Linked DNA regions of Homo sapiens: region 2 is linked to region 1. The links come from fine-mapping of genetic effects on gene expression. A gene starts in region 1. The other region holds a variant in brackets. All regions are shown on one strand. Distances are between the middles of the regions. Region 1 holds the start of ASPG (asparaginase). Region 2 has its middle 61 kb from the start of LINC00605.

What was found. PIP is the estimated chance that this variant, and not a neighbour inherited with it, causes the effect.
Region 2: its variant is fine-mapped to the expression of ASPG in ovary (GTEx, PIP 0.92).

Annotation. Positions count from the first base shown.
Region 1 is chr14:104,077,462-104,092,933 of GRCh38, reverse strand. It overlaps ASPG (asparaginase), which reads right to left and starts at 7,234. Exons shown (of 16, transcript NM_001080464.3): 1 at 7,082-7,234; 2 at 193-301. The coding sequence starts at 7,163. It overlaps LOC124903408, which reads right to left and starts at 12,081. Exons shown (of 2, transcript XM_047432050.1): 1 at 11,306-12,081; 2 at 9,239-10,074. The coding sequence starts at 12,081. The coding sequence ends at 9,999.
Region 2 is chr14:103,242,600-103,258,071 of GRCh38, reverse strand. No RefSeq gene overlaps it. Among named protein-coding and RNA genes, the nearest start is that of LINC00605, 61 kb to the right of the region's middle. RefSeq lists an enhancer at 13,314-14,513. The variant A/G (reference allele first, on the strand shown) is at 7,167.

The DNA of each region.
Region 1 (15,472 bases):
GGGCACCCTCAGAGGTTCAGGCTCTGGTGGAAGGCGACTGCTGGTCAGTCCTAAAGCCCTGTAAGCTGAGGGGATGTTAGAGACAGGGGTGAGCAAATGGCTCACGTGGGCCTGGCCAGCAGTGCCCAGCCTCAGGATCGGTGCCCCTCAGCAGCCATGCCCTGTCCGGGACTGGGAGGAGCCCACACTCACGGTAGCACCAGGGTGTCCTCAGAGAGGCCGCGGGCTCGGGCGTGCTCCTCGTCATGGAACATGGGCAGTGTCCTCAGGATGGCAGCCAGGCCCGTCCCGGGCACAAGCACTGCAGGCAGAGTCCAGGTGGATGCTGGGGTCAGGGGCTGACAGCCATGGCCGCCTCCTCCCTCACTGAGGGGCAGGACCAGAGCTGGTGGGATGGGGCTCCGGTCTTATGACAGTCAGAGGCTGGGAGGAAGGGCTATGGCTGCCCCTGGGACCCCTCAGAGGGCAGGCGGCTGACCCGCGTTTGGAAGCCATGGCTTCCTGCCTTGGAGCCCGTGGTGATTCCTCATTTCGCACCTGGACGGCCCCAGGAGCTCTGCCCAGGTCTCTAGCTGCTCCACCCAGGCCCTGCCCCTGCTCCCACCTCCTTCTCCAAATGCTTAGTCCACACTCCCCACCAAGGCCCACGGGGCTCAGCCTTTGCCTCACTGTGGATATACTGTGGGCTCTGCCTGGAAGTCCTGCCTCGTCCCCACTTCTCACCCAGTAGGTGCCTCAAGGCCCAGATTGGGACACCACCCCCAGGAAGCCCTCCCAGATGCCCAGGCTGTAGTGCTATTCCCACATTCTCCCTCACTGGCCCTCGAGCTCCCAAAGGGCACGGACTGTGTGACTCCCTCAGGGTCCAGCCCAGGTCCCCTTCCCCAGCTCCCCGACCTGGAGGGCCTAGCACACAGCAAGTGCACAGACGGGCTGGTCCCACCCCCAGCAACTCTGCCACCTTCCTGCAGCCTCTGCATCTCAGTTCTGTCCCTTAAATGGAGACCTGGCCACACCACTCATTCCCTGGGGCCAGCTGCTCAGTATAAAGCCCTGACCCCTCAGCCACCCCTCCAGGGCCTCCAGCAAGTCCCAAAGCTCCCTCCCGGCCCTCCCTTCCCTCCCCCAGCAGCAATGCCCCATCCTATCCTGCAGATCCCAGCCATGGTCACCTGCTTTCCCCCCTCGCCCTCTGCAGCTGTACCCATCGCCTATCACTGGCTCACAAATTAACCCCAAACTTGGCAAGTTAAAGCAGCCCCCTCTAATATCCCTCCAGCCGCACCCCTCCCTGACATCGCCCTCCACTGCTGGGCTCACCCTGGTCTCCACATCTCTGCCTGTTAAGTCACCAGCCCCGGGACACCAGCCCTTGGCCCCGTGAAGGTTTATGGCACCCGTGATCCTCCTCTGGCCTTACACAAAGGCCTGTGGAGCCCCGGGGACGTTTGCCAGAGGACTGGAAGATGCAGGCCGGCTGAGGTGCAGCCGCTGACAAAATCACCCCGCCAGTAGGGCTCAGCCAGCAGACGGGGGAGGCGGAGCCCGCACATGTTTGTCTGCCCGTCTGCCCTCCGAGGCGCCCAGAGCACAGCCAGGACACGGGCTGCCGGAACAAAGGTCTGGATTCACCAGCCTTGTGAACCCCAAGGACCCAACCTCAGACCCTGGGCATCCAGGGGGCTCAGGGTCCACCCCACACCGGTGTCCAAGTGTCCCTGTCTCATGTATGGTGGGTTGAAAAAGCATCCTAGATGTCCGCATCCCAGGGCCGGGCGCAGTGCCTCAGGCCTGGAATCCCAGCACTTTGGGTGGCCGAGGTGTCAGATTGCTTGAGGTCTGGAATTCAAGACCAGCCTGGTCAACATGGTGAAACCCTGTCTTTACGAATAATACAAAAATTAACTGGTCATGATGGCAGGTGCCTGTAATCCCAGCTACTTGGGAGGTTGAGGCGGGAGAATCACTTGAATCTGGCAGGCGGAGGTTGCAGTGAGCCAAGATCGCACCACTGCACTCCAGCCTGGGTGACAGAATGAGACTGTCTCAAAAAATTAAATAAATACATAAAAATTAAAAAGATGTCCACATCCCAATCCCCGGTACCTGTGGGTGTCACTTCATATGGAAGTGTCTTTACGGATGTGATATTAGGGGTCATGGGGCGGGAGGTGGCCCTGGACAATCCAGGTGGGCCCTAAACGCCCTCTCGTGTTTCCTCACAGGTGGAAGGCCACAGGGCACGGGGAGGGGAAGGCCATATGACGACAGGGCAGAGCGGCCCTTGGAGATGCTGGCCTGGATGACTGGAGTGATGCGGCCACAAGCCAAGGATTGCAGCAGCCACCAGACACTGGAGGTGGCAGGGGTGGCTCCTCCCGCAGAGCGTCAGGACGGAGCGGTGCCCTGCAGCACCTTGGCTCAGCCCGGGGAAACCCCTCTCAGGCCTCGGCCTCCAGAACCCAGAACGAACTTCTGTGATGTTCAGCCGCCCGGCACAGTGGCCACAGGAAACAAAAAGTCACTCTCCACTCATCACGGCGGGTGAAGCTGGGGTGCCTTATGGGAAAGGTGGAGGGGGCATATCTGGTTTGGTTTTGTGGGACATGCTCACGTTGTGCAAGGTCACCTCCAGCTGCTGCTGACTCATGTGGGGGAACAGCTTCCAGAAACTTCCAGGAATGCTGCAGAGTGGTAGGCGTGGATATGGGCCCTGCTGTCCCTGCTGGGGGCATGTGTGGGCACCACAGGCGAAATCAGCCAAAGACAAGACTAAACTCTCTTGGTGTCCTCTTCTCTCAAGCAAAACACTCCATATGTGCTTTTGCAGTGGTTTTTATGGCTCACACCTGTAATCCCAGAATTTTGGGAGGCTGATGCAGGAAGATCATTTGAGCCCAGGAGTTCAAAACCAGCCTGGCCAATTTCTTTCTTTTTTCTTTTTCTTCTCCTTTCTTCCTTTTTTTTTTTTTTTTTTTTTTTTTTTGAGGCAGAGTCTCACTCTGTTGCCCAGGCTGGAGTACAGTGATGCCATCTCGACTCACTGCAACCTCCACCCACCCGGCTCAAGCAATTCTCCTGCCTTAGCCTCCCGAGTAGCCGGGATTACAGGCATGCACCACCACACCTAGCTAATTTTTTATTTTTAGTAGAGACGGGGTTTCGCCATGTTAGCAAGGCAAGTGAACCACCCGCCTTGGCCTCCCAAAGTGTTGGAATTACAGGCCTGAGCCACCATGTCTGGCCAAACGTTCCTTTTTCAAACCTATACTGTCGCCAGTAAAGTTTTCTTACCAACCTGCGAGTGGACCACTTTCCAACTCTGGGGCTCCAGCACTCACCCCGCAGTCAATGTGTTGTACGTCAGCAGCCATTCTAACAGGTATGTAGTGGCATCAGTTTTTTTTGTTTGTTTGAGACAGGGTCTCACTCTGTCACTCAGGCTGGAGTGCAGTGGCGAGATCTCGGCTCACTGCAACCTCCACCTCCTGGGTTCAAGCGATTCTCATGCCTCAGCCTCCCCAGTAGCTGGGACCACAGGCATCTGCCACCACATCTGGCTAATTTTTTTTTTGTATTTTTAGTAGAGACAGGGTTTCACCATGTTGTCCATGGCTGGTCTTGAACTCCCGATCTCAAGTGATCCACCCACCTCAGCCTCCCAAAGTGCTGGGATTACAGGTGTGAGCCACCGCGCCCAGTCAGCTGGGGCAATTTCTTTTGTTATTTTAAATAAACACCAGCTTTCAGCCGGGCACGGTGGCGGGCGCCTGTAGTCCCAGCTACTCGGGAGGCTGAGGCAGGAGAATGGTGTGAACCCGGGAGGCAGAGCTTGCAGTGAGCTGAGATCGCGCCACTGCACTCCAGTCTGGGCGACAGAGTGAGACTCCATCTCAAAAAAATAAAAATAAATAAAAAATAAACAAACACCGGCTTTCACACCTAACTATGATTTTGTAACTTGTATTACTTTTCTCAATGAGGGCCCTCCAAAAGCTTCAAGGGCTGCAGAATCTGAACCCTCCAGCCCTGCCTGGAACCTCTTCCTTGGCCCATCCAGGCAGGTGCCTGAGTTTGCTGGTGACTTGGAAACTCCTCAGCCCCCTGCCAAACACCTGGAAAGGAGGCTTTGCTCTCTAAGACAATGGGCCCCACTGTCACCAGCGAAGTCAAGCTTAGGCTTAGAAACTTGTGAACGTGTAGCACCCATTCAGGAAGGAGGTCCAGGCCAAGGGCACAGACGCCACTGCAGTAACCAAGAAGCCATGGGCATCACTCCACTGACACTCTCGACTGCTGGGACCCGTGTGGTCACCGGGCAGGGAGCTTCTCTCAGCTGCCTGGCCCCAGATCTCTGCCCTCCCTGCTGTGCCTGCAAGGAGCCGGGCTCAGGAGGGACTTTGGGACAGGCCGGCAAGCAGGTGGGGTTCCCAGTTTGACATAGGAAGTCTTCAAGTTTCTCGGGTGTACAGAACGTGGCCACTGATGCCAGCTTGGGCTTGGGGTTATCAGCCGTGTTTGGATTCGCTATGCCCCTTGACCTGTGATAGCTTCAATGAACTCAGAGAAGGGATGGGTCAAGGGGCGTCCCCACTGGCATCACCTCTGCCCTCCCTGAACTCTGGCAGGGCTCCAGGTGTGCAGCGTTCCACCCACAGGTCACTGTTTACCAGCAGGCGCAGAAGCCGTTCCAACAGCGACAATCAAACAGCTTTACTAGGGCAAAGCCACCACTCCCCTCTCACCTCCCCAGGGAAGGCCAGAGCCCACGTCAGCAGTGTGGAGGGAGTAAATCATTGACGCCTGACAGTCTGGCTGCTCCAACCTCACGAGGGGTTGGGGGAGCCCATTCCTGCAGGTTCCTGGAAGTGGATGCCCCACATGGGTCAGCTAGCAACAGCTGGGGGTGACCTCGCAGCCACACGAGGACGGGCTGCTGAGCAGAAGCCAGGACCCCAGTGCACAGAGCACCAAGGGATCTCAGAAGGCTGCTTCAGGTCTGAAGACTGACGCCCCACACCCAATTTCCAGCCTCCAAGTCTCTTGTTTCCCACCCAGACACAGGACCTCACAGCCTCTTTCAGAAATGCGGTGCACGCGTGTGAGTGCACCCACAGGCTGCTGCGGCGAGCACGCGGGGGCCAAGCGAGACGGGTGTGTGGTGGGGTTACAGAGTCCACCTGCCCCTGCAGCTCGGACCACTCAAGAACTACATGTTGAGCTCAACGAAACTGCAGTTGGCCACACTCCAAGCCTGAAGGGGTAGCGTCAGGGGCGTCGGACGAGGCCCCACACAGAGTCCCCAGGTCCTGTCCCCACTCGGGGGCAGCTCTGGCAGGCTCCGGCCCTGCTGGGCTCCCCACTCCTCTTTCCTGCACCTTGCAGGGCTGCTCCTGGCCTGGCCCTCTCCCATCTTTGTCCTGCAGGCCTTGTGTCCTCAGAGAAGCCCTCCCTGGGCTGCCTCCAAACTCCACACCATCCACACACCCAGCTCAGACCCTGTTATCAGCCCACAGCCCCTACAGGGCCCTGGCAGATCCTGCCCCTGGGACTAGCTCCTTAATGCATGCCATCCCTTCAATGGCAGCCTCTCTCTCTAGCTTGTGAGGGCCAAGCACAGGAATTGTGTCACTCTGTGTCAGTGGAGTGTCACACAGGGGCGTTTGCCAAGCTGTGAATGACTTTGTTCCATTCACAGGCAGAAGGAGAAGTGCAGAGGAGGCTCCCGGCAGCCTGGACAGCCACGTTCTTGGGGACCTGAGTCCCTCGTGGACGAGCCCCACTAGGCTTTGTCTCCTGGGCTGGGCGCAGAGTGGGCCTCCAGAGGGGTCTGCACCGGCCACAGTGTGGTGGGTGGAATCTGAGAGCACCGACAGAGTGCTGGTGGCTTCTGAGCAGCCACTTCAGCAGAAAGGGGTGGCCAGGAGGGGCAGCTGCCAGGGAACAGGCCGTGAGAGGGGGTGGGGATAGGAGGGGCGGGGAAGTGGTTGGCAGATGGGCAAGGGACAAGAGAATGTTCTGGTCATGCCAGGGGAGGCCCTGGGCTCTGGCAGAGCCGGAGAGGGTCCCAGCCGTCCCAGGAGAGAGAGCTGCGCTGGACACAAGCAGGAGTGTGGGGAGGGGCCAGGGCAGCAGGGAGTGGGAGGAGGAGGAGTGGAAAGGGCTCCTGAGGGAAAGGCAGGCAGTGGCCCATGGAGGGTCGCAAACAGGTTCAAGACGGGGCGAGGGGGCTGTCCTGGCCCCAAGGGAGGCCCCACATCACAGCAGAGCCCATCTGGGGGCCCCAGGCAGTGTCCTGCCCTCCTGGGGAACACCCAGGCATTCTGGAGGCTCCAGTGCAACCGTCCTCTCCCCATCCCGGTGGCCTCAGGCTCCCCAAGCTACCATCCTTCCTGTGCCCAGCCCAGGCTGGCAGCACTGTGCTGGAGTACCACAGAGCTCGGTGCCTGTCCCAGGCCCTGACCCCACCCAGGCAGAACTCAGTCCAGACGCAATCGCTGGTCTCTGGTCAACCAGGTCCACACAGGGGCAGAGGAAGCAGGGCTCTGAGGCCACCTCGGGTGTGAACACGTGCGTCCCCGCAGATGCCAGGTAGCCCCAGTATCGTGCCAACCACTGCTGCCTGACCAGGACCCCAGGGGACGGGGACACCCTCCTGGGTGTCGCAGTTGAGGGGTCCTCGCAGCCTCCTAAGCCTTCTCCAGGGCAGCCTCCTAAGCCTTCTGTGTCCAGAGCAGGAGCGGCAGGCCAATGCCCTGGGGCCCTCCCGCCCCATATTCCAGGACTTCAGGACGCTGGCCCTCAGGGGCGCAGCGGCAGCACAGGGGGCCTGGCCCCAGGGTCGCAGGGCGCTCCCGGGAGCACCGCGACGGCGAGAACCCACCGCAATCTCCTCTGTCCAGGTCGGGGCTCCATGCGTGGGGACGCCGGTGGCCGGAACCGGAGGAGAGCGACCTCAGCCCGCACCCCCCATCCAGGCGCGGATTTGACTCCCCAACGACCCCCGTGGGTGCAGGAGGGTCCGAGGCTCCCGGTCGCGGCCAGGTCCAGAGGCCTACCCCGCCCAGGGTCTCGGACTCACCGCCGAGCTCACTCCGCATGCCAATGGTGCCGCCGGTGTAGACGGCCAGCAGCCTCCGCTCGGGCCCCACCGCGCGCGCCATGCCGGACCGGGGACCACGGGAGTGGACGGGGGTGTGCAGCGGGGACGCAGGGCCTGCGGGACTCAGGGACTGCGCGGAGGAGGCCCGGGGCGCCGGGGGCAGCCTGGGAGGGCGGGGCCGGCGGGGGCACCCACGGGGAGGGGGCGGGAGTGGAGTCTGCCCGGGAGGGTGGGAGGCCCCGCGGAGGCGGGCGGGGGCAGGACCTGGGGGCGGGGTGGGTCCCGGGGACTGTCCAGGGTCGGAGAGAGAGGCGGGGCCTGGCGGGGTGGGGGCGGGGCCTGGCGGGGTGCGGGGCGGGGCCTGGCGGGGTGCGGGGCGGGGCCTGGCGGGGTGCGGGGCGGGGCCTGGCGGGGTGCGGGGCGGGGCGCGGCCTTGGAAACGTGTAGGAAGAGGTGAGGTCTGTGAGGGCGGCAGGGGGAGCTCCTGCCTGGGCAGGAGATTGGCTGGGGCCTGCTTGGGGCTGGGGAGCGCCTGTCCAGGGACTAGGGGGCAGCCAGAAAGGCAGCGACAGGGGTGGGGCGGGTCCTGAGCCATCCTGCGGCCATTGGCCCTCCGTGGCGGCCCTGGGTGTTTGAGTAGCTGTGACATGTGGTGCCTGGCAGACCGTAGTGCCCGAGGCCCTCCACGACCTGAGCACAGAGGGGGCTCCGTGTCCTGTCAAGCAGCCTCCACAGCCCCGGGGCTCCAAGGCCGGCATTGCTGCCCAGGCCCTGCTGTCCCTCCTTTGGATGGCCAGAGGCAGGCAGAGCTGGACCAGCCCCTCCACATGTGCCCATTCACACACCATCCAAGAGAAGAGCCCGAGGGGCCCCCAAGGGCTGGAGCGGGACAGAGCAGGAGTATGGCCTTCTTGGACAAACACCGCCATTTTAGGTTCCCTTTGATTAAAAAGCTGCCTAAATCCAGCCCAAAACACATCAGCCCAATAGCTAATGTCAGCACGACCGTAAACCACAAATAACATCTCCAATCAGAAACATGCCAACCTCGAGATAACCTCCCCTCCGACCAGAGACATTCCAAGCCCGCAATAAACTTTCCCTCACATAGAAACATTCCGAGCCTGCGATAAGCTCCCCACTTCCTAAACCCTTAAAGATCCTTAGTCTGTAGGAGAGATGGCTCCTGACCAAAATCGGCCAGAAGTCCCTTTCAGGTTTATTCTCCAAAATAAACCTGCCTTTGTTGAGCCGCTTTTCATGTTTCTTTCCTCTTTCTTTAACTCCTACAGAGCCCACCCTCCTTCACTCCCATGAGAGCCCAGGAGGGCAGGGCACTGGCGGGTGCAGGGTCCCAGGAGGGTCCCAAGCTGCAGGCTTGCTCCCAGGTGGACAGAAGATCCGCGGCCTCCTCGTCTCCTGGCACCTTGACTGCCTGGGGCACTGATGCACTTTGGTGGGAAACTGTGTGTTGCCCCCAGAAGGCACCAGCATTTGACACTGATTCCATAATAAAAATTATTATTATTCTGTTGCCTGGAGGGCAGTAGCAAGATCTTGGCTCACTGCAACCTGTGCCTCCCAGGTTCAAGCAATTGTCTTGTCTCAGCCCCCTCCCCGAATAGCTGGGATTGCAGGTGCACACCACACCAGGCTAATTTTTTTTTCTTTTTTTTTTTTTGTATTTTTAGTAGAGACGGGGTTTCACCATGTTGGCCAGGCTGGTCTTGAACTCCTGACCTCAGGTACTCCACCCACCTCAGCCTCCCTAAGTGTTGGGATTACAGGTGTGAGCCGCCATGCCCAGCCCCATATAATTATTTTGATAACAACAGTGCAATAGTGCAAAAGTAATCTTGTCTGCAGAGAAGCAAAGGCATTCTGCCCAGCAAAGGTCTGTGTTAGTTTTCTGGGACTGCAGTAACAGAACGAGTGATTTACAGTGCAAGGAGGTCTACCTCTCACAGTTCTTGGGGGTGGAAGTCTAAGGTCAGGGTGTCACAGGTTGGTGTCTCCTGGGCAAGCAGATGGTGCCTTCTTGCTGTGCCTCACAGGGTCTTTCCTCTGAGCAGTCACGCATCCCTGATGTATCTCCAGATGTCCAGACTTTCTCTTTTTATAGACATACCAGTCAGATTGAATTTGGGGCCTCATTTTAATTCAACCATCTCTTTAAAGTCTACCTCCAAATACAGTTGCATTCTAAGACACTGGGGTGTGGGGGACTTGAACATTAGAATCTAAGGGAGACAATCCAGCCCATCACAGCCCCCTGAAAATCCAGTTTCAGGTCCATTTGCACAATCATGTCAATATTCCTCATCTGTAAGTGTCTGTTTCAGGACTTCTCTTCTGAGCTGGTCCTCACAGCTGCCTGGGCTAGGGAAGCTCTTCGACGCATGCTCACCCTGCATCCCTGTGAGCACCATGTCTGGCCCTTTCGGGAATCATCCTTTAACAACCCGCCTGCTACCATAAATTCTAGGAAAACTTGTCTGGGGCCAGGGCAGCCTTCACTGGCAATAATCCTCACTGGAGTGGCTTTTCTCCCAGGTGCAAGGAGCCCCATCAGGTTTCTGCTGCTGAAACCTTGCAAGCACCAGGACTCGACGCTGCAGCTTCACCTGAAGACACTGCCGGTCTTTGGACGAATCCACTGTCCTGCTTTGCTTTTGTCTGCGTCCACCTACATCTACAGCGTCCTTGGACGGAATCTTTCATGCAATATATGTTGAAGGCTGGCTCTGTGCCAGATGCCTCTCTAGGCACAGGGGACGCAGCCCGTCCTTCTGAGTGTACCAGCCAGGGTGGGGGCCATAGTAGACAAAAATACCAGCGTCTGGCAGTGACAGTGCCTGGAGGAACACTCAGGGAACACGGAGACAGGCAGTGCTGTTTACAACAGGGTGGCCAGGGAAGGCCTCTCCGAAGGGTTGGCATTGGAGCAAAGCCAGCATGCCAGGCGGGACAGGCTGCCAGGAAGGGACAGGTGCTGAGGCCCGAGGCAGGAGTGAGCATGGCCCCACAGTGCCCAGGTCAGTGGGGCGAGAGCACTCAGAGGGAGGGGATGCCCGCTGAGTGACTGTGGTGCCACGCAAGGACTTTCAATTTAACCCCAAAGGTGAACACCAGCCCCACCGAGGGTTGGGCTGGTTTGTTTTAATCTCTGGCTGCTATGTGCGGAGACTGAGACAAGAATGGGTTCAGGAGGGCTTTGGGCAGGGTGGGGAGGAGCTGGGGATGGGGAAGTGCAAGGTGGGAGTGCTGGGAGCACAAGCTGGAGCTTGAGGGGTACGCGCCGAAGAGAAAGGGTGACTCTCCTGTCTTTGGCCAGAGCAGCCACGGAGTGGGGATGTCCTTACTGAGAAAGCAGGGGCCAGAGTGGGGCCTGGGGCCAGGCAGAGGGAAGCAAGGTGTGTTGGACACATCCTGCTTGGGGGCCACCTGGGCAGGTCCAAGGAGACTCAGCTGCGCGTCCTGCAGTCAGTGGCACAGGGACCACAAAGTCGTGACAGCAGCGAGGTGTCAGCAGAGACAAAGGCCCTAGTCTGAGCCTCAGCATTCTGGCCTCAGAGGCCAGGAGGAGGAGAGAACCCAGGACCGCGAGGGGAGAAGGCCAGTAAGTGATCTTCACGTGAAGTCCCGGGGCTTGGTGAGGGGAGGCCAGAAGCTGGCCACGGTGGAGCAAGGTGGAGGGTGCTGCGGCCTCACCCCGGGTGAGTGGCGTGGAGGGGCAAACGTCTGTCCCCCTGGAGGGACACTTGGCCATCGCTGTGCTGCCTGCTGCTGAAGGAAGGGCTCCCCACCAGGGGCTGGGTTAGGAAGGTGTGGGGTGTGCCAGTCGCTCCCTGGCTCCTGGCCCCCTGGCTCCCCAGGCAGTGTAGTGCCAGGAGGTGAGTCCAGGGAACCTAGGCAGCCCCAGCCAAGTCCCCACGTTCTGCCTGCCCCTCCTTTATTTTTGATTGTTCAGAAAAGTGTTTCCTTGGCCACCCAGGGGTCTCCTCGTCCCCTCTTCTCTCTCACTTCCCATCTACACCCTCCCCAGTGGCCCTCCTTCCACACAGCGCAGGAGAGTTCTGGGTGGGACCCTCCCAGAGTGTTTATAAAATCCACTCCGGCCCCAGCCCCACCCAGAGCAGAGCGGAGGGACATCTGCCATTTGACAGTGCCCGGTGGTCCGGACCACCCTACAGCCCTGCCTACCTTTTCTGCAGCCCTGCCTGTCTTTTCTGCATCTCTTCTTCTAGAGCAGGGTGCTCAGAGCGTGGCCTCCGCTCCAGCAGCAGCACCTGGAACCTGTGGAAATGCAAAGCCCAGGCCCCTGACAACAACTCCGCGTGGGGCCCAGGAGTCCAGACTCTGACCCCGCTCTGGGTGATGCTGATACAGGTGCACATTTGGGAACCACTGGTCTCGAACAAAGGCCGGCAAACCAGGGCTCGACGGCCAGGCCTGGCGCACCTGTGTGTGTAAACACAGTTTTCTTGGAACAGCCACACCCACTCATTTATGTATTGTGTTGGGGAGGTGCCAGGTGGCAGGCCCCCGTGGCCATGCCATGGCTGGCCTTCCAGAGGCAGAGGGGCAGGAGGAAGTGCCTGGGTGCCGAGCAAGGGGCCGCAGGAATGCCACACGTACTCCTGTCTGTCCTCAGCCACTAACTGGGGCAGGCCTTGGTCCAGGGTGGTCACCTCCACCCTGAGGCTGGGGGGCCTCAGGTCACAAGCTCTGCTCTCCCAGTCCCCAGCTCCACACAAACAAGCCAAGACTCCTGGAGGCAAGGCGCAGTGCTGAGGCCACTGGCGAGGTACACGGTGCCCCCCTGGGTTCTGGCCGTGGCAGCAGGCCTGGGCAGGGAGGCCCTGGGAGCCCACCTTCTTCAGCCGCTCAGGCGTCGTCTGTTGCCCTACACTGTGAGTCTTCATGGTACTGCCTATGGGCCAGGCGCTGTTGCAGCCACCCTGCAAATCCAGGCACATTTCACCCCTGTGACCACACCGAGGCAGAGGATAACTGTCCTATTTGGCGAGTGAGGGGCCTGAGGCACACAGTGCGTCCCACGGCAGGCAAGCGCTGGCACTGGGCTTGTGGACACCACAGGAGTTCCTGACACTGTGTTGAAGCAGGCTGGCCCGGCCTGGGCCAGTGTGCTGGAGGGGAACAGAGGTGTGTGGGGACCCCAGAGAGAGGAAGCCTAAGAAACTTTCCGACAGGGAAAGGAGTCTTGGGGCCTGGGCAGGGAACTGCAGAGAGCTGGGGCATCTTCGGCAGAAGGTTGGACCCCAGGGGAGTGTGGGAAAGCACTGAAGGGTCACTCTATGAGCTATGATCGCACCACTGCACTCCAGCCTGGTAATAGACCGAGCCCGTCTCATAAATAAATAAGGGCAAAGGACTTGAACAGACATTTCTCCAAAGATGATATACACTTGGCCAAGAAGCATACGAGAAATGCTCAACATCACTAATTATCAGGGACATGCAAAGCAAAGCCACGTGGTGTCCCCACTCACCCTTTGGGATGGCTACTATCAAAAAAAAAAAAAAAACAGAAAATAAGTGTTTGCAAGGATGTGGAGACATTGGAATTCTGGTGCACTGCTGGTGGGGTTATAAAATGATACAGCCACTATGGGAAACAGTAGAGGCTTCTCAATAAATTAAAATTAGAACTACCATAGCGTCCAGCAATTCCATTTGAGAACAGAGACCAAAGATTGGAAAGGAAGGTCTCAAAAAGATGTTTTCACACCCACGTTCATAACAGTACTGCTCACAAAAGCCAAGAGGTGGAAGCAACCTGTGTGCATCCACAGATGAGTGGATAAGCAAAGTGGTATCTCCATAGAAAAGGAAGGAAATCGGCCAGGCGTGGTGGCTCACGCCTGTAATACCAGCACTTTGGGAGGCCGAGGCAGGCGGATCACGAGGTCAGGAGATCGAGACCATCCTGGCTAACAAAGTGAAACCCCATCTCTACTAAAAATACAAAAAAATTAGCCGGGCGTGGTGACGGACGCCTGTAGTCCTAGCTACTCAGGAGGCTGAGGCAGGAGAATGTCGTGAACCCGGGAGGCAGAGCTTGCAGTGAGCAGCGATCGCACCACTGCACTCCAGCCTGGGCGACAGAGCAAGACTCTGTCTCAGGAAAAAAAAAAAAAAAGAAAAGGAAGGAAATCCTGCCACAGGCTACAACATAGGGTATGCTAAGTGAAATAAGCCAATCACAGAAAGACAAATACAGATGTTTGCAATGGGATTATGTTCTAATAAACCCATCATAAGTCAAAAAATCATTTAGTTCAAACTTCGTAAATCAGAGACCTTCTATCAATAGGATCCCACTTATATGGGGTACTAGATGCTGAGGTCTGAATGTATCCCCCAAAACTCACTTGTTGGAAACTTAATCCCCAATGCAACTGTGTTTGGAAGTGGGGCCTTTTAGGAGATGTTTAGGTCATGAGGGTGTGCCCTCGTGAATGAGTTAATGCCACTATAAAACGACCTAACTGAGGGAGTTTGGTCTTTTTTACCCGTCTGCCACATGAGAACACAGACTTCAAGGTGCCATCTTGCAAGCAGAAGCCCAGATCCTCACCAGACGCCAGATGCCAGCTCCTTGATCTTGGACTTCCCAGCCTCCAGAACTGTGAGAAATAAATCTGTCGTTTATAAATTACCCAGTCTCAGGTATTCTGTTACAGCAGCACAAAACAGACTGACTCTATGAGGAGCCAAACATATAGAAACAGAAGTGGAATGATGGTTGCCAGGGCTGAGAAGAGGAGGGACTGAGAAGTTGCTTCATAGGTGCAGAGTTTCAGATGTGCAAGATGAAAAAGTTCCAGGATCCCTTTCACAACAATGTGAATATACTTAACGGTGCACGACTGAACGGTGCACTTAAAAATAGTTAAGATGGTACATTTTTATGTTTTCTACCACAATAAAAAAAGTGAGCAGGCAAGGATAGACTAGAAGAAAATGTTCACAAGACATATACCAGACAAAGGATTTGCATTCTCACAAAAGAACTCCTACAACTCAATAAAAATACAAACAACTCCCCCCAAACGGGGCACAAGATTTAAGCAGATACTTCACAAAGGAAGATATGGGCAAATTTTAACACAAAAAATTAGGGGACCAGGTGTGGTGGCTCATGCCTGTAAACTTAGCACCAGGAGGCCAAGGCAGAGAAAATTTTTCTCTACAAAAATTAAAAACTAGCTGGGTGTGGTGGTGCACACCTGTGGTCCCAGCTACTCAGGGGGCTGAGGCAGGAGGATCGCTTGAACCCAGGAAGTGAATCACACCACTGGACTCCAGCCTGGGCGACAGAGCAAGACCCTGTCGCTAAAAAAATAAAAATAAATGTTCAGTTAAAGGGAATTAACTACTGAGAAGGGCAGAAACATGTCTAAAGAACATAGGAAGAGAAGATGTGCAGCAGCCTCTAGGATCAAGGACAACACCCATGGGAGGAAGAAACTTGGAACAGCCCTGCTCCCACACCCAGAATGAGACTCAGACCTCTTCGGAGAGAGAGTGGCTGAGGCCACGGAATGGCCAGAGGTGCAAAGGCTGGGCCTGGAGGCAGGAAACTGCTTATTGCTGAGAGGTGCTGGGAGGCCACCTGCTGGCAAGCAGCACCAGAAACAGGAAGAGTAGTTCCGCTCCTCCTGCAGTGTCCCTCCAGTGCCCTCTGCCGGCAACGCCTAACATTGCATCAGCTGGGAAAGAAGAAATGTTTACAGTCTAGCTCCAGGACGCCAGACGAAAGAAGGATGGATTGAGGGCTGAGAGAGAAAAGCTCCAACTAGCACGGAATGTAAGTATTACAACCGCTTTAGAAAATTTGGTAGTTTCTTACAAGATTAAACGACCACCTGCTCAATGACCCAGTAATCCCACAACTCCTCGGTATTTACCCAAGAGAAACAAAAATCTATCTACAGACTTGTTCACAGAAATTTTATTCATAATAGGTAAAAAGTGAAAACAATCCAATGCCCATCAGTAGACGAACAAAGAATAAAGTGTGTGTGTGTGTGTGTGTGTGTGTGTGTGTGTGTGTGTGTGCGTGGTTTGAGATGGAGTCTTGCTCTGTCGCCCAGGCTGCAGTGCAGTGGCACAATCTCAGCTCATTGCAACCTCTGCCTCCTGGGTTCAAGCAGTTCTCCTACCTCAGCCTCCGGAGTAGCTGTGATTACAGGGGCCGATCACCACCACGTCTGGCTAATTTTTGTATTTTTAGGAGAGACGAGGTTTCACCATGTTGGCCAGGCTGGTCTCGAACTCCTGCCCTCAGGTGACCCACTCACCTTAGCTTCCCAAAGTGCTGGGATTACAGGCATAAGCCACCAT
Region 2 (15,472 bases), 830 kb after region 1:
TATAGACTCACAGGAAGTTGCAAATAATAGAGTCCTATATTCTCCCCAGATCCTCTAATGGTGACATCCTATGAAGGATCCAAAGGTGTCCTTTTAAGCAACACCCGTACTTGGTGCTATTTCATTTGTATAAAGTGTACAATTCACTGGTTTTAGTATATTCATAGAGTCGGCTGTCATTTTTATACCTTTTTTTATAATTTTTTTTTGAGGCAGGATCTCACTCTGTTACTCAGGCTGGAGTGCATTTATGCAGTCATGGCTCACTGCAGCCTTGACCTTCTGGGCTCACGTGATCCTCCCACCTTACCCTCCTGAGTAACTGGGACAGCTGTTGTATGCCACCACACTTGGCTAACTTCTAACAAAATTTTTTGTGGAGATGAGATTCCACTATTTGCCCAGGCTGGTCTTGAACTCCTGGGCTCAGGTGATCCTCCCATCCTGGCCTCCCACAGTGCTGGGATTACAGACATGAGTCACTCGCCTGGCCCATTTTTAAACAAAATTATAATGGAGAATGAGCTGAGCCTGTAATTGCCCAATGGAATTTTGCCAGCTGCACAGGACAGCCAATTTATGAAGACAGTAGTAGTGCAGTAGAGAAAGAGTTTAATCAGTGCAAGGCTAGCCATGTGGTATACCAGAGCTTATTATGCAAATCAGCCTCTCTGAAAGCTGGGAGCCTAGGGTTTTTCAAGGATAGTTTGGTGGGCATGGGGCTAGGGAATGGGGATAACAATTGGTTGGATCAGAGATAAAAATCATGCGACTGAAGCTGTCTTCTTGCAGTGAGTCAGTTCTTGGGTAGGATCACAAGACCAGATGAGCCAGCTTCTTGGTATGGGCTACTGATCCAGGTGGCTCTAACTGATCCATCAGAATACAGGGTCTGAAAAATACATCAGACACGAATCTTAGTTTTTCAATTATGTTATCTATAGGAGCAACTGGGGAGGTTACAAGTCTTGTGATCTCTGGCTACCTGACTCCTGAGCCATAATTCTAATCTTGGGGTCTTTCGTTAGTTTTACAAAGACAGTTTTGGTTCCTGAATGAAGAGGAGATAGTTTTGGAAGGGCTATTATCATCCTTGCTTCAGTGTTAAACTATAAACTAAATTCCTCCCGAAGTTAGCTTGGCTTTTGCCCAGAAATGAACAAGGACAACTTGGAGGTTAGAGGCAAGTGTGGAGGAAAAGTTAAACATTAAATTTGAACTCAATTGAACATGGACACAAACAATGGCCACCAAGTCCCCAAACGGGTTGTGTGAGCCCCTTGAGGCGTTTATCCAGCGCTGTTTTGGAGAAATCTCTAATTCAATCTATTCCTATACATTAGTTATTGAAAAACAATAGAAAATTGCAAAAGCAAGTTGGCCCTTTTGTGTTCCTTGAGCCCAGTCACAAAGGCCCCTCGTGACTGGGCCTCACGCCAAACAGCTCGTTACAAAAAGAGCTAGGACCCCAGACCACATCGAAGCTTCATGAGACCTCTCCTTGTCTGTGCACAGACGGGTGGCCAACTCTGGAGCCCAGGCTGTTGCTTCCCGGTCTGGCAGTGAATCCTCCATAGCCTGGTGAGTGTAAATATATATATCTATCTTGGCTGGGCACAGTGGCTCACGCCTGTAACCCCAGCACTTTGGGAGGCGGATTGCCTGAGGTCAGGAGTTCGAGACCAGCCTGGCTAACATGGGGAAACCCTGTCTCTACTAAAAATACAAAAATTAGCTGGGTGTGGTGGCGCACGCCTGTAGTCCCAGTTATTCAGGAGGCTGAGGCAGGAGAATAGCTTGAACTCGGGAGATTGAGGTTGCAGTGAGCTGAGATCACACCACTGCACTACAGCCTAGGTGACAGAGTAAGACTCCATCTCCGAAAAAAAAAAAAAATATATATATACACACACATATGGATATATATTTTGCCTTCTCCCTTTCCCACTGCAATTTGCTTATTATATGAATTTGCTTATTATATTATTTGCTTATTATATAATTTGCTTATTATATCTGCATTGCCACGTAAGATGAAGGTTGTTTACACTTAAAGGTATTGTGTGTGTGTCTTTTCTTCTCCCCTCGCACTTTTCCTGCACAGAACAGCAAGATGGAGTTAGCTATGTCAGATTTCCCTTTCTGTCAGAATTTTGCAAAGGTAGTTTCAAGCCTTCAGCCAGTGGGTAGTATCCATTAGTACACACTGGAGTTTCGATCTATTTCCTGGAATGGTGTCTCACCTCTGCTGCCCCATGGCAGGGTTTCTCACTTCTGCTGCCCCATGGCAAGGCTGCCTGATCACTGCAGATCATGCTGACATAGGTGGACAGAACAGGTCCCTCCTGCTGGAGCACTTTGTGCTGTGATTTGCATAGACTGTGTTCTGAGAGTTACTTTTGCTATTTGAAAGATATTGGCCGGGCACAGTGGCTCATGCCTGTAATCCCAGCACTTTGGGAGGTCGAGGCAGGCTGATCACGAGGTCAGGAGCTTGAGACCAGCCTGGCCAATATGCTGAAACCCTGTCTCTACTAAGAATACAAAAAAATGGCCAGGCACGGTGACTCACGCCTGTAATCCCAGCACTTTGGGAGGCAGAGGCGGGTGGATCACGAGGTCAGGAGATCGAGACCATCCTGGCTAACACGGTGAAACCCCGTCTCTACTAAAAATACAAAAAATTAGCCAGGCGTGGTGGCAGGCACCTGTAGTCCCAGCTACTCGGGAGGCTGAGGCAAGAGAATGGCGTGAACCCGGGAGGCAGAGCTTGCAGTGAGCCGAGATCGCACCACTGCACTCCAGCCTGGGCAACAGAGCAAGACTCTGTTTCAAAAAAAAAAAAAAAGTACAAAAAATTAGCGGGGTGTGGTGGCACGCACCTGTAGTCCCAGCTACTTGGGAGGCTGAGGCAGGATAATTGCTTGAACCCAGGAGGTGGAGGTTGCAGTCACCTGAGATTGCGCCACTGCACTCCAGCCGGGGCCACAGAGCAAGATTCTGTCTCGGGAAAAAAAACAAAAAAAAAGAAAGAAAGAAAGACTAGCTATTTGGCACAGAATTCCATCAGATTTGCATGTTTTATCTCATTTATAGCATTGCATACAGCAATAACATTTTAATTTCCATGTAGTTTTAAATATACTTATAACCTATTTATCAAAGCTTTTAAAAAAGAAAGTGTTTCCTGAGTAACTTAATTGCATATAGAAACAGAGGGAGCCCAGCTCAGTCAGTCTGCAGTGTAATGGACAGTTAATTAACATATGTCTTTGAAAACTGAGTGAAAATAAAGAGTTTGAAACTTTCTGAGACTTATTAGATTCCTCTCCTTAGGCAGGTCTTGGATGTCGAATGCTATCCCCAGCAGCCTCAAATCTACAAAGCAGTGATACAATCACGCACCCGCCACCAGCTGAGCAACTGAGAATACCAAGTGTTCACCAGGATACCCAGCACCCAGAGGCATCTCACTTTGCTGGTGGGAGTGCACTTTTTTTCTTTTTTTTTTTTTTGAGACAGAGTCTCGTTCTGTCGCCAGGCGGGAGTGCAGTGGCGCACGATCTTGGCTCACTGCACCGTCCGCCTCCTGGGTTCTGGTGATTCTCCTGCCTCAGCCTCCCGAGTAGCTGGGACTACAGGTGCCCGCCACCACGCCCGGCTAATTTTTTTGTATTTTTAGTAGACACAGGGTTTCACCATGTTAGCCAGGATGGTCTTGATCTCCTGACCTCGTGATCCACCCGCCTCTGCCTCCCAAAGTGCTGGGATTACAGGCGTGAGCCACCGCACCCGGCCGGGAGTGCACTTTGTACAAACACCTGGAGAAACTGTTTGGCAGTGTGTTCTAAAGCTGAACCTACCCAAACCCTATGACCTGGCAACTTCCAGCAAGTGAGTGAATAAGTTTAATTGTGAGTGAATAAGCCAGACACAAAGAGTACATGGGTGTGCATCCTTGTCAACTGATAAAGAAAAGTGGCTCAGAACAGCCTGAGGAATGGGGGGGGGTCTGCAAAATGTATCAGGTCCAGAGGGACAGGAGCATGGGACCTCAGTCACACCCCCGCAGCCATGCCCAGGGGTAACTGTTTAAGGGCTTTGTTTTTTTCTTTCCTTCCCTGTAGTTTCCAGGCTAGCTAATAAATTACCTAAAATATTACCACAAGTTGCACAATGTGAGCCTCACCCATTATCTTCATGCTCCTGGAATTTGTGATACAAAGAACGATGTCTAATAAATCAATAGGTTATTTTAATGAAACAATAAAAATTTTTGGTAAACAACTTAGGAACTGCCCCATTTTTCCTTTAAATACTGACTTGTGGCTGAGTTTGGCGGCTCGCACACGTAATCCCGGTGCTTTGTGAGGCCAAGGATTGGGAGGAGGGCTTGAGCCCAGGAGTTCCAGGCTGCAGTTAGCTGTGATCATACCACTGCCCTCTAGCCTGTGTAACAGAGTGAGACCCTATCTCTATTAAAAAAAAAAAAAAGCCAGGCATAGTGGCATGCACCTACAGTCCTAGCTACTCAAAGACTAGGACTAGAGGCAGAGGTGGGAGGATCACTTGAGCCCAGGAGTTCCAGGCTGCAGTGAGCTATGATCTCACCATAGGATCTCACCATGGGATTACCATGGGATACCTTTTCTTTCTTTCTTTCTTTTCTTTCTTTCTTTCTTTCTTTCTTTCTTTCTTTCTTTCTTTCTTTCTTTCTTTCTTTTCTTTCTTTCTTTCTCTCTTTCTCTCTTTCTCTCTCTCTCTCTCTTTCCCTCTTTCTCTCTCTCTTTCTTTCTTTTTTTTTTTTTACAAAGTTTCATTCTGTCGCCCAGGCTGGAGTGCAGTGGCGCGATCTTGCCTCACTGCAACCTCCGCCCCCCAGGTTCAGGTGATTCTCTTGCCTCAGCCGCCCGAGTAGCTGGGATTATAGGTGCCCGCCACCATGCCTGGCTAATTTTTGTATTTTTAGTAGAGACGGGATTTCACCATGTTGGCCAGGCTGGTCTTGAACTCCTGACCTCAGGTGATCCTCCTGCCTTGGCCTCCCAAAGTGCTGGGATTACAGGCATGAGCCACCGTGCCTGGGGCCTCAGTTTCTTAATTTTGGTTGGCATTTCTGGTGTTGTCTGGAGGATTCAGCTCTATTCCTCCCTTGCAGCCAACTGGCATTCCCTCTCACACTCAGCAATCCGAACCAGTATAAACACTCTGTGTTCCTCTGACTCCAGAGGTTTCCTTGCGTGCAAAGGTTGAGTCCTGAATTCAGACCTCCCTTCCTTTTGGTTGAGGTCTAGATCTTTTTCTAATTTTTAATTTTTATTTTTTGTGGACATATAGGTGTATATATTTATGCAGAACATAAGATGTTTTGACACAGACATGCAACATGTAATAATCTTATCATGGAAAATGGGGTATCCAGTCCCACAAGCATTTATACTTTATGTTACAAACAATTCAATTATACTCTTTTTGTTATTTTAAAATGTAAAATTAAATTATTATTGACTATAGTCCCCCTTTTGTGCTATCAAATACTAGGTCTTATTCATTCTTTCTAACTATTTGTTTTGTATCCATGAACCCACCTCCCCTTCACCCTCCCACTACCCTTCTTAGCCTCTGGTAATCATCCTTCTACTCTCTGTCTCCACGAGTTCAATTGTTTTGACTTTTAGATCCCACAAATAAATGAGAACACGCGATGTTTGTCTTTCTGAGACTGGGTTATTTCATTTATCATAATGACTTCTAGTCCATCCATGTTTTTGAAAATGACAGGATCTCATTCTTTTTTATGGCTGAATAGTACTCCATTGTGTAAGTACCTCTGTTGATGGACATGTAGGTTGCTTCCAAATTTTGGCTGTTGTGAAGAAGTTGAAACTTTATTTGGGCTGTTTTCCAAATCCTTTCTTTCCTGCAAGAGTGAGGGCTTCTGTCTCTGTCTCTGGACAGGAGATTTAGGCAAAAGCTCTGCAGAGAATGTCTGTCTTCTCCTCAGCCTCATGGCAGCGTTTTGGGTTACAGTGTTGGAGTCTAGTGTAACTGCCCAATGGGTTCCTCTTGCCCACTGTTCAGAGGAAGCCAATTTATCAAGACAGGGAATTGCAACAGAGAAAGAAAGAGTTTAAGGCCGGGCACAGTGGCTCATGCCTGTAATCCCAGCACTTTGGGAGGCTGAGGGGGGCAGATCACCTGAGGTCGGGAGTTTGAGACCAGCCTGACCAACATGGAGAAACCCCATCTCTACTAAAAATACAAAATTAGCCAGGCATGGTGGCGCATGCTTGTAATCCCAGCTACTCGGGAGGCTGAGGCAGGAAAATCACTTGAACCCAGGAGACAGAGGTTGTCATGAGCCGAGATCACGCCATTGCACTCCAGCCTGGGCAACAAGAGTGAAACTCTATCTCATAAATAAATAAATAAATAAATAAATAAAAACAGTTTAATACATGTTGTCATCGGCTAAACAGGAAACTAAAGTTTTATTGCTACTCAAATCAGCCTCCCTGAAAATTCAAAGTTTAGGATTTTTTTAAAGATAGTTTGGTGGGCAGGAGGATGGGAAGTGGGAGTGCTGACTGCTTGGGTCGGGGATGAAACCGCCGGGAGTCGAAGCTGTCCTCTTGGGCTGAGTTGGTTCTTGAGTGGGGATCATAAGACGAGATGAGCCAGTTCACCAGTCAGTGTAGCCTCAGCTGACCCATCAGAATGCAGGGTCTGAAAAACACCTCAAACACCAACCTTAGGTTTCATAATAGTAACGTTACCTATGGGGGCAACTGGGGAGGTGAGGAATCTTGTGGCCTCTGGCCGCGTGACTCCTGAGCCAAAATTTCTCATCTGTGGCTCATTTGTTAGTTCTACAAAGGCTGTCTGATCCCCAGGCAAGGAGAGGGTTTGTTTTGGGGAGAGGCTGTTATCTTTGCTTCAACATTAAGCTATAAATCCCTCCCTTCCTCCTTTGGCCTACACTCAGGAATGAACAAGGGCAGCTTGGAGGTGAAAGGTAAGATGGAGCTGGTTAGGTCAGATCTCTTTCACCATCATAATTTCCTCATTGTTATCTTTTTTGCAAAGGTGGTTTCACTAGCACTGGTGATTTCACTTTTTTTGACCTAAAGTTACATAGCATGATTTTAAAATTGTAGCTGTTTCCT[A/G]TTGCTGGTAATTTGGACTCGTCTTTTCAATTGTGACCAATTCCTGCTAGTTTCAAACCAAAGGGTGCATGAGGGTGAGTTCTCTCACCTGGAAGTTAAGAGACACTTGCTCCCTCCAAACCCAGCTGGGTGCTGCAGGGGACTAGAGATTTTATGGGGGTGTTGGGATGTTTGTCCATGATGTGTAGCAGTCTGAGAGGGCCTCCCTGCAGGACAGACCCCAGCTGGAAGGTGCACATAAGGGCTGGTCACCTGGCGCCTTTAGCACTCTACCACTGCAAGGGGACCAGGGATTCTGAGACACATAAGACAGTCAATCACGGTGTCACTGGGACCTTAGGGAGTGACGCTTGCAAGTAGCACACTTCAACCAGAAGCTCTGTTCCAGCCTTGATCACTTTTGAGAAGGAATTTCTAAAAGTATGGGAAAATGGTTGTCAAAAACTGAGCTTTCCTTTAAGGGGCAATCCCCCTTGGAAGCACCAGCCGGGTTTGTGGGTCACCCCTGTAGAGCGCCATGCTGTGGACACCCAGCCAGATGCACCCACATGACTCAGGATGACCCCAAATTTCAATGGCCAAAATCGGGGTCTTTGGAAATTTCTAAGTTAATATGTTTGTGCATACAATTAGCAGGTTTTAGAACCAGACAAATTGAACAGCAGTCCTATTTTAACGGTAGGTAGAAGCTTCTAAGAGAGGTATGGAAAAAATGGCTTCCGTCCAGGAGATAAGCAAAAAATTGTCAGAAACAATTTCACAACTAAAGAAAACCTTGAAAATGTCTTCTCTTTCTCCTTCCACTGCTCTCCTGTTGCCTCCTCCCACACCTCTACATCCACTTTTGTCAGGCCTTCCATGCTCTGGTTACCATCTCTCCTATCCCTCCTCCGCCAGAGGAAGAGGCTCAGCAAATCCCACAGCACTCTTGCAGATCTTCTGGTCAACCCGCTTCTTTCAACGAAGGCAGCTCCAGCAGCTGACTTGCCAGACCCAACCTCTTAAGAAGATGCAGATAAGCCCACATGACCAAAGAGGGGTCTGCTTCTCTTGCAAGAAACAAAGTCACCTTTAAAAAGATTGCAAACAACTTAAATGGCAACAGGAGAGAAAAACCACCCAAGAGAAACAGCTGCTCTGGGGAGCCGAAGGGGGCGTTTCTATTTCTCCTTCCTCTCCCATTAGGAGGAGTGGATCCACTGCTGAGTGAAGAGACTCCTGCTCTCACTGACACCAGAGCTGTCTTCTCTGTTCTCAACCCCATCATATATAACTGTCCCCTTCCTCAGAGGAACGAAACCACTGAAATGGTGGGAGTGCCTAACCCACCCATGACTGTAAGGCCCAAGTTTCAGAATTTCAAATAGGGACTGCATGAGACTATTTTTGCATTGCTGCAAAGAAATGCCTGAGGCCGGGCATGGAGGCTCACGCCTGTAATCCCAGCACTTTGGGAGGCCAAGGCAGATGGATCACCTGAGGTCAGAAGCTCAAGACCAGCCTGGTCAACATGGCGAAACCCCATCTCTACTAAAAATACAAAAATTAGCCAGGTGTGGTGGTGCGTGCTTGTAATCCCAGATACTCGGGAGGCTGAGGCAGGAGAATCGCTTGAACCCAGGAAGTGGAGGTTGCAGTGAGCTGAGATTGTGCCACTGCACTCCAGCCCAGGCAATAGAGCAAAATTCTGTCTCAAAAAAATAAAAAAAAGAAAGAAAATATTTTGAATTCGGAACCAATGGATGATGTGAGCAACTTATGGCAAACCCTGCCTCACCACTTACGGTCACAAGCACCCACATACATTGGGAGAATAATTTCAGCCACTCATCATTTGCAGCATCACTCTTGCCACAGGCTTCTTTATGTGGAGTTCTTCCCTTGCCTTCACCTCACATTACTCTCTCACTGTAGGGATCTTAGCCCTGCTACTGTGCTGCCATTGCCTTCTGATGGGCTGCTCCCTGGCTGTATTGCCGTGACCCAGCAAATTCTCACTCCTAGGCAGAACTCACAGGAGATGCCTACAGAGGATGCTGATGTAATTTGGTTTACTGATGGCCCCTAATTAAATGGCAATTCTGGAAAACACTGCAAGGTGATGCAGCTGTCTCTGTGACTGAAGTCCTAAAAGACAACCCTCTCCCAGAGGCAAAGTTGGCCCACCCAGCAAAACTGATTGCCTTAGCCAGAGCCTGTCGATGCGCAGAAAGCAAGGTTGCTGAAGTTTACACAGAGAGCAGAGGCGCATTTACAACAGCACGTGATTTGGGGATGCTCCGGAAATAACGTAGATTCCTGACTTCTTCCAGACAATCCCTTAAAAATGGCCAACAGGCCTTTGATCTCTTGGAGGTCATTCAGAAACTGAAATCACTGGCCCTTATCAAAATTCCTAGACATCGGAAGCCAGACACTTTTGATGGTAAGAGCAACTGTTTCACAGAGGCTGTGACCAAAACTGTTGCTGAAGTGTCTTTCCTCACCCAAAAACTATACATCTCGAGCTATCCCTGCAAGCATATGCTCCAATTAAAACTTTGCTGAAGGAGGCCAAGCACGGTGGCTCATGCCTGTAATTCCTGCACTTTGGGAGGCCAAGGCGGGCAGATCACTTGAGGCCAGGAGTCCAAGACCAGCCTGGCCAACATGGTGAAACCCTGTCTCTACTAAAAATACAAAAATTAGCCAGGCGTGGTGGTGCATACCTGTAATTCCAGCTACCCGGGAGGCTGAGGCAGGAGAATCGCTTGAACCCAGGAGGCAGAGGTTGCAGTGAGCTGAGATTGCGCGACTGCACTCCAGGCTGGAAGACAGAGTGAGACTCCATCTCAAAAACAAAACAAAACAAAAAAACCTCGCTGAAGAAAGCACAGAGAAAGGCCCTGAAAAAGAGTTAAAGCTTTGGAAAAGTAAGAGGGGGATGTCACGTCCTCTCCTGAAATGGGTTTATGGTACAGTTCAGTGATAGACCAATTCTTCTCTCGCGACTTTGGTTACCCTTTTTACAATATGTTCATGAGTCAACTCACTGGAGTCAGATAAAACGATTTCATGGAAAAACAATTTCATGGAAAAATAATATTCCTGGAAACCATCACCCATGATGGCTCAAAAGGTGTACTCTCGGCTGAACTCAGCGGCTCATGCCTGTAATCCCAGCACTTTGGGAGGCCGAGGTGGGTGGATCACTTGAAGTCAGGAGTTCGAGACCACATTGACCAACATGGTGAAACCCCATCTCTACTAAAAAAATACAAAATTAGCCAGGCATGGTGGCAGGCGCCTGTAATCCCAGCTACTTGGGAGGCTGAGGGCAGGAGAATAGCTTGGACCCGGGAGGGAGAGGTTGCAGTGAGCCAAGATTGCGCCATTGCACTGCAGCCTGGGTGACAGAGCAAGACTCTGTCTCAAAAACAAAACAAAACAAAACAAGACTTGTTGCCTGGGCAACAAGAGCGAAACGCCATCTCAGAAAAAAAAAAAAGTGTACTCCCCCCATCCTGCTTGTCCCAACACAATTCTGAAAAGCACTCCACGTTCCTCAAGGACATTTCCCTGAGACATTTCCCATCAGGACCTTTTGAGATAAAATGGCAACTGAATTTTGTCCAACTGCCTTTATCTCAAGGATACAAGTACATCCTGGTCATGATTTCCATGTTTTCTCATTGGGTTGAAGCATTGCCATGCCGTAGAGCCATGGCCTGAACAGTAGGTAAATTTTCGCTAGAGAAAATTATTCCTTCTTGGGGAGTCCTCCAAGTTGCACAGCAACCGAGGAACCCATTTCACCTGTCAGACAATTCGGTCTATTTGTGACATACGGCGATTTTTCACCACTGCACTATGCATGCCACCCTCAGCCTCTGGCCTGGCGGAACACATAGACGGTGTTAAGAGTGGAGGGTGTCCAGGTCCTCGGTGTCTTGAACAAAGAAGTGGACAAAACGCACAAACAAAGCAAGGAAAGAATGAAGGGCTTTGTCTTACTTTGTTTTTCTTGGGACGGAGTCTTGCTCTGTCGCCCAGGCTGGAGTGCAGTGGTGCAAACTCGGCTCACTGCCAACCTCTGCCGCCCGGGTTCAAGCGATTGTCGTGCGCAGCCTCCCGAGTAGCTGGGACTACAGGCATCCGCCACCACGCCCAGCTAATTTTTGTATTTTTAGTAGAGATGGGGTTTCCCCATGGTGACCAGGCTGGTCTCGAACTCCTGACCTTAGGTGATCCACCTGCCTCGTCTCCCAAAGTGCTAGGATTACAGGCGTGAGCCACTGCACCCAGCCGAATGAAGGGTTTTATTGAAAATGAAAGTACACTCCACAGTGTGGTAGTGGGCCTGAGCATAGGGGCTCAAAGGCCCTGTTACAGAGTTTTTGTGAGTTTATGTGAGTTTAAATACCCTCTACTTGGGGTACACCCTGTGTAAATGAAGAGGATGACGTAAAGTGATGCCATATGGAGAGGATATTTCCTGTTATAGCTGAAGTGTGAATTGGCCTTATGTTCCCTGCCTCCAGACCTTATTTTCCTGCCACAATGGATACAAGAACAAATGGCAAAGTTTACAGAAACTTTGAACCTTGTCTTGCCTAAGGCTCTTCCATTGGTATTGCTTAAATTACCTTCTACCTGTTTGGAAAACCTCAGCTTTCTCCCTTTGAAATAACTGCAGGAAGCCCCATGTGCCTGGAGGAAGGAGCCCAGTGAACCAGCTCACCCTAAAGGTGACATTCTTCATGATTGCAAGGCCTTATACAGCTTCTCACTAAAAACTCTAAATTAAAGATTCTTTGAAGAGTCAGCACCCAGGAGACGAAGACATCAGAGGTCATGGCCTGCAACTAGGAGGTTTTGATTCTTGGAAAAGACATCAAATCAAGGACTCTTTCTATCAAATAAGGGACTCCCTCCAGCTCACCAGAAGGGCCCATGTTGGGGATTGTTTACCAATTCCTTGTGCAGCTAAACTCAAAGGCACTGACTCATGCATTCACATTTCTCATTTTAAAAAGGCAGTCCTCGCAGCCATAAAAAAGAATGAGGTCATGTCCTTTGCAGGGACATGGATGAAGCTGGAAGGCATCATTCTCAGCAAACTAACACAGGAACAGAAAACCAAACACCGCATGTTCTCACTCATAAGTGGGAGCTGAACAATAAGAACACAAGGACACAGGGAGGGGAAAAACACACACCGTGGCCCTGTTAGGGGGTAAAGGGCAAGGGGAGGGAGAGCACTAGGACAAATACCTAATACATGTGGGGCTTAAAACCTAGATGCTGGGTTGATAGGTGCAGCAAACCACCACGGCACATGTATACTATGCGACAAACCTGCACGTTCTGCATGTGTATCCCAGAACTTAACGTAAAATTAAAAAAAATAAATAAAAAGGCAGTCCTGCATGCATGGGTACCTTCCACCTGGAGATCCCCAGCTGAAGCTGATCTGCAGCCAGTTACCTTATTCTTCAGACCAGGACGAGAAGTGGGAAATTAATTAGAAATCACTCAAAAAGTTAAATGGGCTGGGTGCGGTGGCTCACACCTGTAATCCCAGCACTTTGGGAGGCCAAGGCTGGTGGATCCCTTGAGGTCAGGTGTTCGAGACCAGCCTGGCCAAAATGGCGAAACACCATCTCTACTAAAAATAAAAAAAAATAAAAAATAAAAAAAATTTGCCAAGTATGGTGGTACACATCTGTAATCCCAGCAACTTGGGAGGCTGAGGCAGGAGTATCACTAGAGCCCAGGAGGCAGAGGTTGCAGTGAGCTGAGATCACGCCAGTGCACTCCAGCCTGAGCAACAGAGTGATGCTCTGTCTCAAAAAAAAAAAAAAAAAAAAAAGGCAAAATGGCTGCAAGATGGTAGAAAAACAGACCCCTCACGTGATTTACATGATTGATTACCTTTAGGAATAGGAATGCTTTCCAGATTGGGATTTTATTTGCATCATATTTTTTATTCTTCACTTGATTAGGCTTTGTATTTCTAGATGTCTAAAGTCAAGAATAAAAACGAAAATCATGATAGCTAGAACACTTAGGAATGATCCGCGACACCACAGCTTCTCTCCAAGCAGGCGGCCTGGGATCCCGCTGCTCTGTCCCGTTGTGCTGCCAATATCTTCTGCCTGGAGACCTCACCGAGTTCATGAGCCAGAGCACCTCTCCTCTTACCCCCCCCCCCCCCATGGGAATGAGCCTTCCCAGTGATGCTGGGCAAATTTACACTTAAAATGTTGATCAGCTAGGTGCAGGGGCTCACGCCTATAATCCCAGCATGTTGGGAGGCCAAGGAGGGTGGATCACTTGAGGCCAGGAGTTAGTTCAAGGCCAGCCTAGGCAACATGTTGAAACCCTATCTCTACCAAAAATACAAAAATTAGTCAGGCATGGTGGCATATGCCTGTAGTCCTAGCTGCTCCGGAGGCTGAGACATTAGAATTGCTTGCACCCTGGAAACAGGTTGCAGTGAGCAAAGATCACACCACTGCACTCAAGCCTGGGCAACAGAGTGAGACTCTGTCTCAATAAATAAATAAAATGTTAGATGCAGTTAGGTTTCCTCTTCAAACAGCTTATCCAGTTTCCTCATTCTCTATCCTACAATTCCAAATACCCCCTTGCCTGTGCTGCACCGCAGCTTGTCTGAATATGCCTAGGCATGCCTGAACTTGCTACAACCCCAGTCCACATTTCTTTCCTTATTAGGGAATAGGTTACCCTCCTAGTCCCTCCGTAAATGACCCCCCTTCTCTCCCTTCTCACCTCCCTTACGTGCCTACCTTATCTAAGAAAGTTTAAATGTTTAGCCAACTGGGACTAGTTTAGACTGTGTGGTCCAACCCTAGCCAATAGGGGAAAGACACAGAAGCAGAAGCTGTGTTAGACATAATAAAAACCCCTGCTTTCCTTTGTTCTGTGTGCTTTTGCCATTACTTCACATGTGAGATGCACATACCCTTCTGCCGAAGTAAATTTGCCTTGCTGAGAGATCCTTAGTCTCAGTGCTGGTTCTTCTTTGAGGCACCGAGCATTTGTTTCCAAAAAATAAATAAAATAAAATAAAATATTGATCATCAATACTTTCAGAGAGCAAGATCTTGATCCAAAGGAGGAAATAAGAAAGAGAAGTGGCTCAGAGCAGCCTGAGGAATGTGAGACCTGCAAACTTATCAGGCCCAGAGAACAATGATGCCAGCAGCTGTGCCTAGGGTTCACTGTTCAAAGGCTTTTTCTTTCCTTCCCTGTAGTTTCCAGGCTAGCTGACTGTCTAGACTTCCTAAAAGTTACCACAAATTGTACAATGTGATCCTTATCCATGTCAATGAAAAGAGTCAAATTCTGTGAAATATGTTACAGGGTTTATTCTAAGCCAAATATGAGTGACCATGGCCCATAGCATAGCCCTCAGGAGGTCCTGAGAACATGTGCACAAGGTGGTCGGGGCACATATAGCTTGGTTTTATATATTTTTAGGGAGACATTAGACATCAATCAAATATATTTAAGAGGGACTGGCACAGTGGCTCATGCCTGTAATCCCAGCACTTTGGGAGGCTGAGGCGGGTGGATCACAAGGTCAGGAGTTCAAGATCAGCCTGACCAACATAGTGAAACCATCTCTACTAAAAATACAAAAAATTAGCTGGGCGTGGTGGTGGGTGCCTGTAATTTCAGCTACTCGGGAGGCTGAGGCAGGAGAATTGCTTGAACCCAGGAGGCGGAGGTTACAGTGAGCCGAGATCATGCCATTGCACTCCAGCCTGGGTGACATTGTGAGACCCCATCTCAAAAAAAAAAAAAAAATATATATATATATATATGAAATATATGGGTTTGGAGGTTCCCTCTCTTGGCTTTGGAGCCCCCCATCCCTCTGTTTCTGTACAGGGGAGCTTCTTCCTTCTCCCATCCTTCTTGCCCCTTCTTGCCTATTAAACTCTCCACTCCTTAAAACGAAAAAAAAAAAAAAGAAAGAAAGAAATACAACGGTTTGGTTCAGAAAACTGGGACAACTCTCAAAGCGGGAGCTTCCAGGCTGTAGGTAAGTTTAAACATTTTCTGGTTTACAATTGGTTGAGTTTATCTGAAGACCTGGGATTAACGGAAAGGAAATGTTCAGGTTAAGATGAAGGATTGTGGAGACCAAGTTTTACTGTGCAGAGGAAGTTCTCAGATAGCAGACTTCAGAGAGAGCAGGTTGTAAAATGTTTCTTATCAGACCTAAAAGTGTACCTGGCTCTAGTTGATTATCTCCTGGATCTGAAAAGAAAGGAAGGAAAACAAAGGGGAAAGGG